2 separate regions of the Homo sapiens genome follow, and region 1 is reported to be linked to region 2. The links are microRNA targets in miRTarBase. Many come from high-throughput screens and were not tested one by one. Region 2 holds a microRNA gene; the other region holds the end of a gene's coding sequence.

The links. The annotated mature microRNA hsa-miR-4686 reads UAUCUGCUGGGCUUUCUGGUGUU and lies in region 2 at 1,977-1,999, shown strand. An mRNA with a match to its seed (bases 2 to 7 or 8) in the 3' UTR can be bound and repressed. Matches are read on the target gene's strand: a 7mer-m8 pairs with bases 2 to 8, a 7mer-A1 pairs with bases 2 to 7 and ends in A, and an 8mer does both.
Region 1: miRTarBase lists MYCN as a target of hsa-miR-4686. Seed matches in the 3' UTR shown: 7mer-m8 at 4,480-4,486.

The regions. Positions count from the first base shown.
Region 1 is chr2:15,945,592-15,950,931 of GRCh38, reverse strand. MYCN (MYCN proto-oncogene, bHLH transcription factor) reads right to left here. Exons shown (of 3, transcript NM_005378.6): 3 at 3,928-5,340. The coding sequence ends at 4,835. It also overlaps the pseudogene RN7SL104P. Among named protein-coding and RNA genes, the nearest start is that of MYCNOS, 6.6 kb to the right of the region's middle.
Region 2 is chr11:2,171,096-2,176,463 of GRCh38, forward strand. It overlaps MIR4686 (microRNA 4686), which reads left to right and starts at 1,968; the gene lies at 1,968-2,043. TH (tyrosine hydroxylase) reads right to left here and starts at 720. Exons shown (of 13, transcript NM_000360.4): 1 at 602-720. The coding sequence starts at 691.

The DNA.
Region 1 (5,340 bases), not on the chromosome of region 2:
GGATCACTTGAGTCCAGAAGTTCTGAGCTGTAGCACCCTATGCCTACTGGATGTCCACACTAAGTTTAGCATCAATATGGCAACTCCTGGGAGTAGGGGACCACCAGGTTTCCTAAGGAAGTATGAACTGGCTGGCCCAGGTCAGAAATGGAGCAGGTCAAAACTCCTGTGCTGATCAGCAGTGGCACTGTGCCTGAGATTAGCCACTCCACGCCAGGCTAGGCAACACGGCAAGACCCTGTTGCAAAAAAAAGAAAAATAAAATAAAGGAAAAATAAAATTCTCACAAGCAGACTGTAGGTGCCTCCCCTGAAATGGGAGAGTAAACTAGTTGGCTTCTATGCCTCTTCCAAATCAAACAACCTCTGATTTCGAAAACAACTCACATCAGAATTTCAAAACATAGCCACCATAGGGATTAATGAAACTAAAACTCAGAAGACCAGATTCCCTCACTTATAATGTGGGAATGTGATAAACTGGTCAAAAATCCTCAAGGATTTTTGAGACTCATGCATACAAAAACTTGGGAAGCTCTGCAGTGCTACACAGGGGTGGGAGGCATTGCAACCTTTTTCACTACGAGTGTAGACCATCTGTGGCCTGAGGCAAGTGTCTGAGCTGCCACAAGCCAGGCCAGGCGTAGACTCAGTGAACCCAGGCAGAGGACCAGCTTCCTCCTTCAGATAGCCCCAAACTCAGCCACTAGGCCCCTCATATGCTTTCATTCATCAGCCCCTCAACCCAGTGCCTCTTGGTTTCTCTTCTTGCCTTCTATACAACCCCCAGGGCTTTAACTCTCTTGCAGACTGTGGGCTCCTTGTAGACAGTCCTCTATGAGCATTTTATCTTCACTTCTTCAGAACTGCCAGCATAGTCAGTACCAGACACTCATTGATGTCTAAGGGATGTCTTTTCCCATCTGAATTAGCCTGAGAGCTTGTGAACTGGAGTTGGTGGGAGACCCACCCATAATGGAAATCCTCTCCTCGCTCCTTCCTCTGTTACCGTCTATACTGCTGGCATCTGCTAAGGCTCTGTCACCTGTCAGTCACAGGGCAGATGCTCAGAATCAGAGGCAAATGAGAGCCCTATCTGCCTTAAGGGAGCCCACAGTTTAGGGGGTCCAGGAGGTGCATAAGGCAGCTAGAAGATAAGTGCACAGAGGCCAAGGGCTGGGAAAGGCCTACCTGGGGGTGCAAGATTGAGAAGGATTTCAATTAATGGAATCTGGGTAACCTAGAAGGAGGGATGTGGTGAAACAAGTCACGGATGAGAAACAGCCAGAGTCCAGCACATGGAGGGCCATGGGCAATGGAGCTGGTGGGACTGGGTAGAAGTGCCTCTGTGCTGGGCTGGAGAGTCGGGACTCGATTCTGTAAATAGTAGGGAACTGTTGGAAGTTTGCATAAAGAGTAGGTGGTTTAGAAGGGTTAATATGGAAGCATGATGTAGGTGGACGGGCAGGCCAGGAGGTGGGGAGGCTACAGTGTGGGCAATGAGAAAGTGAATGTTATGGGGAAGGGCACTGGGCGGGTCATAGGAGACACCGGCTCTAGTCTCCCTGGGTTAAGCCATTAATTCCAGGTGGGATCCCGCACCCTCATTCTGAGAAATGAATTTCAATGAGATGATCTCTGTGCTTCGTCTCAGCTCTATCGTTTATTGAACTAAATGATGTAGAGCTCTTTCCCAGTCTCAAAACTGCTCTTGGAATGCAGAGATGGTTTCTCATGTTATTGAAACAACTAGTTCAATTCTTCTGTGACTACAGCAATTACTTTATAGATAATTGCAGAGCTAAATTTGGTGACATTCCCTCAGCTAGGTCAGAAAAGGCAAATATGGGATTTTTTCACTTTAGTTTTAATCCTTTAGGTGCATATTTGTGGTCCACCTAATGCAAAAACGTTTCATGTTATATACTACATTATATACATTAAAAAGATGACTAACCTAACAATGGAAAACAAGAAACCGTAAACATTTAGAAGAGAATGACCACTGGAGATGTTAGAGGGGGTGGAATTTGGCTCTGAGCTTCCCAGCAGCCCGAGCAAAAAGAGAGCATAGTAGGAATTGTAGTTTAGTGGCCTCATTCATATGAACAGTTTTCTTTCTTCACGGTTAAGCATTCCATTTCATTGGACACACTCAGGTAGGTTCCTTATGGTAATCACAAATAGAGAAACTGGGATGACTGAGCTGGGCTTCAAGAATCTTAGGTACACAATTAATGTGAGGTTGCTTAACTTTCTTTTGGCTCTTGCACACACACAGGGGCAGAGGCCGTGAGTGATTTGGGGCCTGTAAAATGCAAACGAACGGAAGTTTTTTGAATGACAATTCAAAAAGAAAGGGTGCATTATTTTTTAGTCTGGGGATGGGGACTAGGAGAATTAAAGGGCATTTTATCTTATTTTCTACATGGCGAGACCATCAGAAAGATGTCCATGGTAGTATCACCAACCTCGTATCTCAAGGGTGTGCGATAAGCAGGATAAGGAGGACTGAGTTCTAAACTCCTACTTGCCTTTATAAAATGACCAAAGCGGCTGGGCATGGTGGTTCACGCCTGCAATTCCAGAACTTTGGGAGGTCGAGGTAGGTGGATCACAAGGTCAGGAGATCGAGACCATCCTGGCTAACATGGTGAAACTTGGTCTCTACTAAAACTGCAAAAAATTAGCCGGGCATGGTGGCACACACCTGTAGTCCCAGCTACTCAGGAGGCTGAGGCAGGAGAATCGCTTGAACCCGGGAGGCGGAAGTTGCAGTGAGCCGAGATTGCACCACTGCACTCTAGCCTGGGCACCAGAGTGAGACTCCATCTCAAAAGAAACAAATAAAAATGACCAAAGCAGACAAGGACACATGGCTTGGTGTCTCCCATCTCTGCCCCTGACAAACTGTGTGTCCAGGCAAGCAAAGCTGTCTCATCTCTGGACCTGCTTTCTTCTCAGTGAAGCAAAAGGCCTTTTTCTTTTTTTTCGGCTCACAGTTAAAAATCTGAGATGAACAAAACCCTAGAGAAATAACCGAGTACAACCTGACACTCAAAAGAGAAATAGGTTATTTGTACACTTTTAGTTCTGAGAAGCTGCTTACAAGCAAGGCTCTTATGTCCCAACAGGTAAACTATCTCCTTAACACACAAGTCTTGGCTCTGTCTTCTGGAGCCTGCAAGATTGATCCCATTTCCAAAGGGCAGCCCAAGTAGCCAAGACACTGCTGTGTAATAGGAATGGCAAGTAGAGAGCCATGCCACCCATATGGGGTCTCCATTGTGACCCCAGGGTCTCTCCTGCACCTGGTACTTGCTCTGGACTACGTAACTGTCACTCGTGAATTACACTTTGGTGAATCAGGTTGAGTTCATTGAAGGGAGGAACCCATTTCCATCTGTTTATTCTGCTTACTCTGCTTAGCCTAGAACCTCCACAGATCCTAGTGAATGTTTTTAACAATGAATTCTTGGAGACAAACTATGCTCTACCTTAAAATAGAAGACTGTCTGCCAATGGGACGAATACTACCAAAGCCCAATACAAGCGAGTTAAACAACCCTGTGGCTATTTTTACTTTTCTTTTAAAGGGACTGATCTGAGGTCTCAGCTTAATTCCACTAAGGAGCCACAGTATACAGAAGTGCTCTGTAAATTATCAAATGCCATTGCTACAATGCACACAATAGTCGCTAATAACATCTCTATTCTGCATAATCTTGGAGAACTGCCTTAATTTCCCCAAACTCAGTTCCCTCCACCTTAAGTGGGGACAATGACTCATGCCCCCCAACCAGGATTGTACAGGTGCAAAAAGGGCTATTTACGGAAACCAAATTCCCTCTATAGGTTATGGATTATTTATGGTTGCTCCTTAAGGGACAGAGTGTAATGCCATTAAGGAAAAGGTTGAGTTGCATCATTTAATTTTAAGCTATTTATTTTCATAAACATGAGGTATTTCAAAGTGCTATAAGATGCAGCACTAAATATATACATTTTGAAGAAATTAAACACAGAACTTTGCATTTACCCAGTTCTATGCACCAAACATGAACAAATACATTAACAGGAAGAAACAGGCTAGGAAAAAGGCATATATATATAGTAAATTTCTTTACAAAAGTTTCTTAGTTCAAAAAGTGATAAAGTAATATCTACTCAAAACTTTCACAACTCATTTTCATACGAAAATATAAGTATCAAATTTAGTTATGTATCAGCGTCATACTAAAGTATACAGGCAGTGTAAGAATTAGTACAGTACATAACAGAGATTAACAATATATTTGTATACAAAACATGCTCCTCAAACATTGAGGTATTATTACAGTACTTAGGTATGAACTTCCAGTCTAATACTGGCCGCAAAAGCCACCTCTCATTACCCAGGATGTATACAAAAGGCGGATGTGTCAATGGTATTTACAGAAATGTTCCCCAGGGGTATCAAATGGCAAACCCCTTATGTGGCATCTGCTGGAACTTAAGCACCATTTTAAAAAGAAGGAATGACTTTCTGTTGTTTGGAAACTTGGAACACACAAGGTGACTTCAACAGCCCCAGAGGCTCCCAACCGTCACCAACGTTTAGCGCTGTCATGGAGGTGAGGTGGAGGAGGCTGCAGGGCCACCCAGCATCCTGGGATGCAGGCTCTCCAAGGTCCCAGCAGAACCCCACACTGGTGGTCCTACTGCCCACCCAGAGCCGAACTCGACAGGGGACCGATTTGAAAGTAAACCAACATTCTTAATGTCAACACAATGTTTGTTTAAAAAAAAAATCAAAATGTGCAAAGTGGCAGTGACTGTCCAGTTTTGAGAAGCGTCTAGCAAGTCCGAGCGTGTTCAATTTTCTTTAGCAACTGCTGCTGTCTTGCCTGCAATTTTTCCTTTTCCAGCAAAAGCTGGTGCTCCTCGGCCTGGAGGGAGTGGACATACTCAGTGGCCTTTTTCAAAATGACCACCTTGGCGGCCTTCTCATTCTTTACCAACTCCGGCACGTGGTCCCTGAGCGTGAGAAAGCTGGACCGAAGGTCGTTGCGGCGCTGGCGCTCCAGGATGTTGTGGTTTCTGCGACGCTCACTGTCCTCCGAGTCAGAGTTTCGGGGGCTCAAGCTCTTAGCCTTTGGGGGGATGACACTCTTGAGCGGACGTGGGGACGCCTCGCTCTTTATCTTCTTCTGTGGGGGTGCATCCTCACTCTCCACGTAGGGAGAGGGGGCGGCATAGTTGTGCTGCTGGTGGATGGGAAGGCATCGTTTGAGGATCAGCTCGCTGGACTGAGCCCTCCCGGGACCCAGGGCTGCGTTCTTGGGACGCACAGTGATGGTGA
Region 2 (5,368 bases):
AATGAATGAATGAATGAATGAGGGAAATAAGGGAGGAACAGGCCAATGGGAATCACCCCAGAGCCCAGATACCCTTTGAATTTTGCCCCCTATTTGCCCAGGACCCCCCACCATGAGCTGCTGCTAGAGCCTGGGAAGGGCCTTGGGGCTGCCTCCCCAAGCAGGCAGGCTGGTTGGGGTGCTGACTAGGGCAGCTGGGGCAGAGGGAGGCAGGGGCAGGTGGGAGTAGGGTGGGGGCTGGGTGCAGCAGCCGGGGACCTCTGGCCATCTTGGATTTTTTGGATGGATTTGTTTCCACATTCCGATCGTTAAGATTCAAGATGAAACAAGACACAGAGACCCACACGACCCCCGAGAGAGGTCGGCCTAAGAGGGGCACACACAGGGACAGGCATCACCTCACCCTCCCCCAACAGGGACTCAAACACCAGGCACAGGGGATGCCGCTGTGCCCAGGCCTCCACATCCACGCCGCGTCCCAGGGGTTTGCATGGACCCTGAGCCTGGGGCTGCCAGCCAGGCTGGGGAGTAGCAGAGGCAGCTGGCACCAGCCCTGGGCTCCGGTCCACTGCGGCCGCCGGGCACCTACCTGCCCTCTTACCATGATGGCCTCTGCCTGCTTGGCGTCCAGCTCAGACACGGCCCTGCGGAAGCCCTTGGCCTGTGGCGTGGTGGCGTCGGGGGTGGGCATGGCTCAGTGTGGAGGTCCGGGCTCCGTCTCCACAGCCCTGGCCCAGCAGCCTCTTATAAGCTGAGCTGACGTCAAAGCCCCCTCTGGGTCCCCCACCTTCCCCTCCTTACATCCCCCACCCCTGCCTGCTGTGCCTGATGGAGGCGGGGGTGGGTGAGGAAGGAGGGAGGCGCAGGAGAAAGGGCTCGTCCGTGGAATCTAATTGCCTTCACTCCCCAGCCCTGTCTGAATCATCCTCAGCCCGCGGGCTTGCGGGGACCAGGGGCTCGTGCTCTGCGGGGGGCTGAGACAGCCAGGGTCCCCTTGGCCCCACAGCCCTCAAGAGAGCACACAGGGAGGGGCTTTCTGGCAGCCCAGGGGCACACTTTTAATGAACACCAGAACCTCGTGGCAGACCGACCCAGAAAGCCCCAAGACGGGGAATCCAGCCTCCAGCCTCAGATGTCAGGAGGCAATTTGTTTGCTTCTCCAGAAGATTCCAGGCCGTGTGTCTCATAGACGTGGTTCCTAGGAGTGCCATCTGCCCACAGCCCCCGGGCCCTGCAGGTGTGGCCCTTGCAGCGGCTTCCCAAGCTCGCCCCGTGGGGTCCAGAATGTCCCAGGAGGGCCCACCTGTCCAGTGTGGAGGACCCTGGGAGGCTGAAGAAGACATCTCTAAGGAGACGCCACGCGTTTCCAAATGGCTGCCACCTCCTGCATCACAGTCCCCACCAGGGTTGCCAGGGCGACCAGGGCCAGGGACGGCTTCCACCCACCCCACTCAGCCCCTCTATGGCCCACTGCTAGCTCCTGGCTTCCCTCGGGGTCCTGTGGCCCCTTCTTTAAAGAGCACGCACGTCCCTCAGTGCTGAGGGCCCTGATGCCTTCCCCTTGGAGAGACCTTTGCAGTTTCTCCTCTACCCCACCAGGCCCCGGGTTGAGGGTGACCCTGGGGTGACCTGAGAACTCCCTTGAGGACAACCCCAGCCTAGAGCCTCCCCCAAGTTCCATGTCCGCCCCGCAGGCACCCGCATCCAGCCCACGCCCACTGGCACCTCCTGCTCCCAGCCGCTGCCCCACCCAGGGAGAGTGATGCCCCTGCCCAGGGTGGCTTCTGGCCCTTCTGGTGGAAGGGGAGGCCTCCCCATCCCTCTGGGGTCAGCAGAGATGGCCAGAGCCTGCCTTGACAATGCTGGACTGTACAGAGGGAAGGACGTGGCCCCAGAGTGCATGGCCTGCGGCTGAACGCTGCCACCGCTGTCCCTCCTGGAGAAGAACCGTTTCCGACAGGGCTTGGGGCTTCCTGTATCTGCTGGGCTTTCTGGTGTTGGCAGCCCAAGATGACACCCTGGGCCCAGCAGGAGCCAGAAGCCCTAGACGCTCCCTGACTTCTCGAAGGCCTACCCCGGCTGGTCACTGTGGCAGCCAGAGCTGGCATCTCTCAGGGCCCACTCTGCTCCTGTCAGCTGTGGGACTCCCCGCTCCCCGTTCTCTCTTCAACAATAGCCCCTGGGACCTTTCCTAAAACTGCTTCAGCCATGGCATCCCTGTCCCACACCCCTCCGTGGCTCCTCGCTGCCCTCTGCAGGCAGGCTGAGTGCTCAGTCAAAGCAAAGGGAAGACCCCCCAACCCTTCCCACTTCCTGGCCCAGAAGGATTTGGGGCTCCGTGATCCCCGGTTTGCAGTGTCATTCCTCACCCACCTCTTATCCGGGTGAACTCCTATGCATCCCACAAAACCCAGTTCCGTCGCTGCTCACTCTGCAATGCCTGCCCTTTCTTGCCACGATATTAATGCCCCTCCCTTGCGCTCCTCTGGAACATCCCTGGGGGCAGGGAAGCCTACCGCTCGGCCCCTGCTGTCTCTCAGCACCCAGTGCAGACCCTGTCCTCTCTCGGAGATGCTATGCCCCTCCACAGTGTTCCCCAAAGGCCTCCACCTCCTGTGGGTCCTGCCCACAGTAGGTCTGGGTGCCTGCTCAGAAGGGCGTTGGAGGGATTTGCCTCCAAGACCTCAGCCTGAAGGCTCAGCCTCTGGCCTCGCCCTGCGGCCCGTGAGCTTCTGTCACCCAGGGCTGAGGCCCACCCACCTGAGTCCCTGGTGATGGCCCTTGGGTGGCCCAGCCTCCATGCCCAGTGTCCAGGCCTGGTGAAGCTCTGCATGGCTCCCCCGAGCTCCCCTCAAGGTCCCCAGAAAGAGTCTCATTTGCCTCCCCCAGGGTCGGCTGCTGAGGATCCCTCGGTGAGGCAGCTCCAGGCCCCCCAGCACCCCGCCCCAGCTCTGCCCAGGGCGGCCCCAGTGCTCAGGTGCCCAGGCCAGGAGGAGAGACATGCCTGATGAACACCACGCCGGAGGCTCATGGCCCACACTGCCGGATGTGGATTTAACCTTTCAGCAAATGTCTTCCACTGATACAAATATTGCTTTTTAATTCGGTTTCCTGCCGGGCCAGTTGTGCTTTCATGGAAGCCCGATGGGAACTAAGCTTACTAGACTCTTCCTTGGGGCCAGGCTCTCTGGAGGCAGGAGCCCAGGCCAGGTGCTGAGGCTGGGGAGGCCCCTGGACCCCTGTGGAGGTGAGTGCTGCCCTCAGGTGCCTGCACCTGCCCTGCCTCCAGCCTCCCGCCCCAATCAGGCAGCATCCATCCCTGCCTATCCATTCCTGGGAAGCCTGTCCCACACGCCAGCCCCTTCAGGGCCGGGGAACCATGCTGTACCCCAGATCCAAGGCCCCTGTTGGCACAGAGGTGCCCCCGACTCCAGTCCTGGCCCTGGCCCCGCCCTCCTTTGTGCCGTGCCCCTCTCCGATTCCAGATGGTGAGGGTATCCATGGAGGCCCCAAAAGTCTACCCTGGCCAGCCTCCCCGCTCCCAGCCCGAGGGTACCTCTCCAGTCTGGACCACCCATGATTGAGCCATGCCCCGTGTCACCCACCTGCCTCTGGCCCTCTCCAGAGATGTCCACAAACACCAGGAAGGCTCCACTCCAGCGCCCACGGGACGAGGCCTCTCCACGCTGGGCACAGGCCTGGAGGGAGCACACGGCTGGCCCCTGGTCTTGGTAGAGCTCAGTGCTGGGTCAGCCTGCGGCATCCACGTTCGGGCAGCTGAGGTGTTCACAGACCCATTCTGCAGATGCGAGGACTGAGGTTCTGAGGTGCAACTTCTCAGGGGTCATGCAGTGAGTCTCCAGCCCAGGTTTCCCAACTCCCAAGACACTGGTCTTTCCTTTTTTTCTTTTTTTTTGAGACCGAGTCTCGCTCTGTCACCCAGGCTGGAGTGCAATGGCGCGATCTCGGCTCACTGCAAGCTCCGCCTCCCCGGTTCACGCCATTCTCCTGCCTCAGCCTCCCAAGTAGCTGGGACTACAGGCGCCCACCACCACGCCCAGCTAACTTTTTGTATTTTTAGTGGAGACGGGGTTTCACTGTGTTAGCCAGGATGGTCTCGATCTCCTGACTTCGTGATCCGCCCACCTCGGCCTCCCAAAGTGCTGGGATTACAGGCGTGAGCCACTGCGCCCGGCCTGACACTGGTCTTTCAAAGATCCGGTGGCATCCATCCCCTGGCACTGTGGGGCTCAGGAACCTAGGCCACAGGGAACAAATCAGACAGGCTGCTGTGACCAGCGTCCCATCTACAGAGACCCCAGAGGGAAGGGCAGAGCTGGGACAGGGTTCTCTGGAGGCCGAGGTCACGCCCCAAGAGACCCCTGGGGCCAGCATACTGGCCCCTGGGAAGGAGAAGGGCTGGAGCGGAGCCCCACCAGGGGGGGCTATGAGGTGGGGCCAGGAGTGAGGGCCGACCCAGGCCAGATCAGAGACAAAACAGGTGACCAGGGGAGTGGGGGCCCCGCAGAGGTCTGAGGAGCCCTTGCTGTCCCCTCCATTGCACCAGGCTCCACCTTCCTGCACGGAGCCCTCTGGGCTTCCCTCCATACCCCACCACCCTCCACCACTTCCGCCGTCCCTGTGGTTACAGCCCCTGCCACCATGGCCGTAAGGAATGCTGAGCCAGCTCCACAATGGAGCGTGTTCTCTCTCAACAGCCTCTCAGCCCGAGGCTTAATCACCCAGATTAATCACCCAGCACGTCTGTGCCCTGGGACTGGTGCCCACTCCCCGCGTGGGGCAGGGTCAGAGTGCTGACTTCGACCTGGCTGTGAGGCTGCTCCGCCCACAGGGCGAGTCTCTGAGGCCACCAGGCCTGCTCCCCAGCACCAGCCTTGCCCACCACGGGCCCTTCCCAAATCCAGGCCTGCTGGAGGAGCCCAGCCATGTGCTGGGGAGGAGCCCAGGAGGTGTTCTGGGTCCCCTGGCTGACAGGCATCGCCCTGTGGCTCTGCAGGGTCTAGCCATGGCCTGGCTGTGGTGTGCACAGGGCTCAGGTGGCCCTGTGATCTTTGAGAGCCAGCATGGTGTCCTCTTGCAAGTGCCTAGGCAAATGCAGGCATCTGTGTGAGGCACACACACATGCACACATGGGGCACACAAGCACACACACAACACTCCATGCACGTGTGAGCACCCATGACACAGGTACACACCACAGGTACAAGCAGCATCCACACACTGCACATGCAAGCACACTCACACATGACGTGTACATAGCACACATACAGGCACACTCAGACATAACACATGTGTGCACCACACACATGCACACACAGATGCATATGACACATGCATGCATATATGT